Linked DNA regions of Homo sapiens: region 2 is linked to region 1. The links come from fine-mapping of genetic effects on gene expression. Tissue or cell type: lung. Region 1 holds a variant in brackets; the other region holds the start of a gene. All regions are shown on one strand. Distances are between the middles of the regions.

Region 1 (2,682 bases):
TGCATCATTTTCCTAGCTTGACACTTGGGTTATTTTTCCTTGCTTGTTACAATCATATAAGAAATGTATCTCCCCTACTCCTTCTCCAATGAGACATTTGAGCATAATTGTGCTGCAGTCTTTCTGACTCAGTGGCTCATCCACAAAGGTGCTCAGAACCTTTTCTAGTTCACTTGTCTGATCCGGCACAGAACATTCTCCTCCTTCTCAGGTCATGCATACTCTCCAAAAGCTGCACACCCTGGTCTTCACCTGATGGGAAACATCCTGCCTCTAGACCCTTCAGTGTCAACATCTGCACTCATGTTTTGCTTCCTGAACCCACTATCCCTGCAGCTGTTTCCACCTCCCCTCGCCCATGCACAGAGGTCCCCTGCAGGGCCTCTGCTCCTGCTGCGCCTCTTCCTGGGAAGGGCTCCTCCTTCTCCCTGGTCTTCATAGGGTGTCTCCTTGTAATTCAGTCCCAGCCTATGAGTCACCTTCTCAGAGAGGCCTCCTGGATCTACAATCTAAAGAAGCTCTAAGTCTCCCTCCTCACCAATCAACTCAGTAACATGACCCAAGAACACTGAGCTCTTCACGGAACTCTCCCTGATAATATCTGGTGCTTTGATGTGTTTCTGGATCGTCTTCTCCCTTTAGCCAAACTATTTCTCATGTGCATCCCTGTGTCTCTTGCGCCCAGAACAGTGAAAGCATACAGCAGGAGCTCAATAAATGTTTCCCGAATGAACAAATGAATGAATGAAAACATGAAGGCAAATCTCATTTCCCTGGTGAAATGCTTTATAAATTATTTGCCACATTATATGGATGTCCTTTATTTCCAGAGGAGTGTTAAATTGTCCATAACCCTTTGACCAGTATTTTGCTTCTAGGAATCTCTCCTAATGACATAGACAAAAATGGAGACACCAATTTTGGCACAAGGATGGTCATCAGAACAGTATTTTTAGGCCGGGTGTGGTGGCTGACACCTGTAATCCCAGCACTTTGGGAGGCTGAGGTGGGTGGATCACTTTAGGCCAGAAGTTCGAGACCAGCTTGGCCAACATGGTGAAACCCTGTCTCTACCAAAAATACAAAAATTAGCCGGGAGTAGTGGTGTGCACCAGTAGTCCCAGCTATTTGGGAGGCTGAGGCAGGAGAATCGCTTGAACCTGGGAGGTGGAGGCTGCAGTAAGCTGAGATTATGCCACTGCACTCCAGGCTGGGTGGCAGAGCGAGACTCTGTCTCAAAAAAAAAAAAAAAAAGTATTTTTAATGTCAAAAATAAACCCTCACTAGAAAAAGGGGAAAATTATTATACGGGTTAATCTCTTAGGAATGGCAAAGCATTATGTAGATTTAAAAAAAATGTTTATAGAATTTTTAATGACAACAAATATACTAAATGTTAATGGTATATCTGAATGATATAATTAGTATTTTTTACTTGGTACTTTAGTGTTTTACAACTTTTCTCCAATGAACAGGCATGTGTTTCACAATCAGACAAAAGTAAAATATTACAAATTCTCCAGTTTCTGAGTTCAAAGGCATTTGTACTCAACATTTTATTCCC[A/C]CATTTTATTGAGGTAAGGGAGGACTTCTTTTCTATTCTTAGAAGCGTTTTGCAAACTGTTGGTATTTTTTTAAGTGTTACAGAAAGAATGTTCAGAGAAGGAACCAGTTTTACAGGTTTACTCCCATAAAGCCACAAGGTTTCCTTAGAACTGTAGCAGCCTTCATCCTTGGTGTGTCCCAACCACCACGAATGCAGAAAGAAGTAGAAGGACTTACTCCTATTTCAGTGACACCTTCTGCCAAATTCTTCTGTGGCGGTTTCATGGTTAGCATGCAGACGCCATGATAGAGACTGACCATTGCCAATATGTCCTTGCTAAAATATAAAAGATTCAGACATCAATATGGTGGAGAATGGGAACCTATATAACATGGAAAAGAAGGGCATAGTTTAAATGACAACTATCATTACTATTGTTGTTCTTGGCTACTTGTTTTCCTTTCTTTTCTTTCTATGTCTGAGATTAATCAAGAGTAAAGATTCCTAAAATAGACACTTCCGTGATTCATTTATTCTCCACGAAGAGCTCTCTCTGCTGCATCTTTCCTGCAGTTCTCTTCTAAAGCAGGAAAACTTTGTTGTTATTTTCCCTCCTCTGTGTCCGACATGAAAGGCAGCTCTGCTCTGCCAGGTGCCCCTTCACACTGGAAGCAGCAGGAGCTGCAGCATCAGAGCACGACCTGCCCCGTTCTCAACTCACAGGAGGAAGACAGGAATGAGGACACAGCACCGGGACACAGAAAAACTAAAGATGGCGAATGCTTTCCATCTGAAGGGCATTTCCAACTATCCAAAGGTCTCCTACCGCCATCCTCTTAGTGCTGCTGCTGCCAAATACACTCCCAGAATGCTCAACCACTCTGCTTGTGGACTCTGTGACAAGGAGGCGCTCCAGTCCTTGGATGCCTCCATCGTCTCTGGATTAATGCATCCAACAAGATCCCATCTTCTTACTCAGTTTCCAGAAACAGATCCTCTGGTAATTGTCAATTGATATCCTCTGGATCCCAACCTCACAGATTGGTAGAAACTACCTGGTTCACCGTGTTGTCAGAGATCAACAGAAAAGAGTGCCATGATTGGTGAGTGATATGTGTCTGTGCTAGTCACAGACA
Region 2 (2,682 bases), 200 kb after region 1:
CTACGTCGACCTCAACACCACAGCACATACTTGTAACTGTTTTTTTGTTTGTTTGTTTTGTTTTGTTTTGTTTCTTTCTCACAACCCTTTACATGGCTGTTTTCCCACTAATCGTGCCACTTCCACGGCCGGGATATAAAACCATTTTACAACAGTTATTCTCCCATGTTTTTCCTTCATTTTATAGACAGCTGAATCCCAGGATCGAAGCTGTTTCAGCAGACAACTGTTGGGAGCACACAAGATCTATTTCAGCTCAAGAAAGGCCAAGGACAAAGACAAGACAAAAGTTGTGGGTTAAAGGGCAGACTTTGCGCAGAGCACCGGTAGAGGAGCGGACAGTGTGATGCGTGGTCCACTGCAAACCATTTCTTCCACAGCAGCAGCTCTGCAAAAGGGACCTCTGAGGAAGAATTCCCTGTCTTCCCAGTGAGTGGTCATTTTAGGAGAACAAGTCCCCTACTAGCCCATAGCTGGAGGGCCAACACTTTTTCTCTCCCTGAAGTTCCCGGCACCTGTTCTGAAAGGGGGTTGAAGAGCTCTCTACTCGGGCCATCCCGCCTGCTCTCTGGATGGAGAACATACGGACAACTGTGTGTTAAGCAGTCCCCTTGAATCCTTCAGCAAGCCAAGGAGTATACAGGTGGTCACCTGCACAGGTGCCGGGTCTACCACCACAACTTTATCCCTGGCCTTGGGGGCTGATGGAGAGTAAGACTCCCCACCACCGCCACCAGCAGTACCTCCAGCTCGCGAGTAAGCAGCGCACAGGCGGGCACAGGTAAATGTTCCCAGGGCGGCCAGACGCCTAAGCCTGCTGGCTGCTGGCGCTCAGGGTCCCCACCTCCATGCCTCTGCGTGGGGCAGGGGGAGTCCTCGTGCCTGGCATCCCACTCCCCCCGCCAACCCAGCCCGCTTATCCTGGGGCTCCGGCCGGGCCGCCCGAAGGAGCCCCGCGCCCAGCCCCGGGAGCCCCGAGCCGCCGGAGCCGCAGCGCCCACTCGGGGCAGGCAGCGTGCACTCACCCTTCTGCTCTCGCAGGCTCGACAGCGACCAGAGCAGCAGCGCCACCGAGGCCAGGAAGCAGAGCTGGCTCAGCAGAAGGTCCCTCCGGCGGCGGCGGCGGCGGCGGCGACGCGCGCGGTCCTCGTCGCCGGACGGCCGCATCCTCGGGCGGCCGGGCGGCGGCCTCGGCGGGCGGCGGCCGCTCCTGTCGCGGGCGGCCGCGGCGGGGACAGCGGCAGGAGGCAGCCCTGCGCGCAGCAGCCGCGCGTCCTCGCTGCGCTCCCACCCGGCCGCCGCCTCCGCCTCCTCTTCCTCCTCCTCGCCGCTGCCCGTCTCCTCGTCGTCGCCCTCCTCGTCGCTATCGCCCAGTCCCTCCTCCCCTCCCTCCTCCTCCTCCTCGCCGCTCGCCCGCGCCGCCGCCTCCCGGCGCTCGGGGTCCCGCTCCTCCTCGCGCGCCATGGCTCCCACGCTCCGCGCCCGCGCTCGGCCTGGGGCGGCGGCGCGGCGGGGGCGGCGGGGGCGGCCGGGAGGCGGGGGCGGAGGGGGCAGAGGAGGAGGAGCGGGGAAGGACCGACGGTAGGAGGGCCCGCCGCTGGCCAACTCCGCCGGTTGGCAAAGCCACCCCGGACTGGCTCTGGCCTCGCCGGCTGCAGGAGCGCCTCGCGGGGCCGCCCGCCTATTCCATGGTCGGCGCGATGGGGGCCGGGGCCGGGCCGGAGCGAACAGGGAGCACCGAGCGAGCTGGGAGCATGAGCTAGCGCAGCTCCCGGCAGCCTGCAGCGGCGAGGCTGGTCGGGCCAGGGTTGGCGGGGGGCAGTGCCTGGGACACAGCCCGGCGCTGGCCGGCATGGCGGGGAGGGGGCGCGCTGGGAGGAGACTGGGCTGGGGAGGGATCCCTGTGTGCAGTCCTTCAACCCTTCTGTGCCAGGGGAAGAGGGACGGCGCAGGGGGCCCCCTCTCGGGAAGCACACACGCTGCCTCCCAGAGGCCGATCTTCACCAAGAAGGATTCGCTGGAAACTTTCGGAAAACCGAGGGGCTCTTCAGCCTCCTCTCTACGTGCTACCTGGAGTCGGGGCGCCGCGAGTGCGCTTGGCTGCCCGCGCCCAGCCTCTGGCCTCGCCTCTTCTCGCGGGCCTCCCGGGTTTCCCTCTGCCCCCTTGCGGGGATCCCCCTGTGCGCCCGACTCGGGATCTGGAACAGGCCTCCCCAGAGGCTGTTAGTTCCATAAGGGTGTCCGGCTCCCCCCTCTGTCTTGGGCTCACACTTCGCTTTCTGTTCGTGCTGGACCAAGTCCAATACTGTGGCTGATCGAAGTGGGGACAGCTGGCACGGTCCCTGGAGAGGCGGCCTGAAGAGGCTTCTGGCCTTGTGCAGGTAACACCAGCCTGCCCTACCTCCAACGTTAGAATCTTAGTCCTCCCATTTCCCCCATTCTAGGTCTCCTGCCCCTCCTTGCTGAAGGTGTGGGCTGCCCTAGAGATGGCTGGACTCACGACCTGCCGCAGGTGCCCATTTGGAGGGGATCCCTGGCCATCCCAGACACAGCCCACTCTCCCTCATTGGGCTTCCCTGGACTCTTCCCAGATGCTAGCCTGGGGCTGCTGGCTGGGCTGAGGAGGAGATGCCATTGTTGGGGCGGAGGGTGGGGGGGCGCTGAAAACAAAAGACCTTGTCC

The links. PIP is the estimated chance that this variant, and not a neighbour inherited with it, causes the effect.
Region 2: it holds the start of SLC24A3, and the variant in region 1 is fine-mapped to the expression of SLC24A3 in lung (TOPMed, PIP above 0.99).

What each region holds. Positions count from the first base shown.
Region 1 is chr20:19,406,963-19,409,644 of GRCh38, reverse strand. The region is part of intron 2 of SLC24A3 (solute carrier family 24 member 3); the gene reads right to left. Among named protein-coding and RNA genes, the nearest start is that of SLC24A3-AS1, 120 kb to the right of the region's middle. The variant A/C (reference allele first, on the strand shown) is at 1,565.
Region 2 is chr20:19,211,328-19,214,009 of GRCh38, reverse strand. SLC24A3 (solute carrier family 24 member 3) reads right to left here and starts at 1,368. Exons shown (of 17, transcript NM_020689.4): 1 at 1,026-1,368. The coding sequence starts at 1,167. LOC101929547 (a long non-coding RNA gene) reads left to right here and starts at 1,542. Exons shown (of 3, transcript XR_007067549.1): 1 at 1,542-2,381. RefSeq lists a silencer at 968-1,017.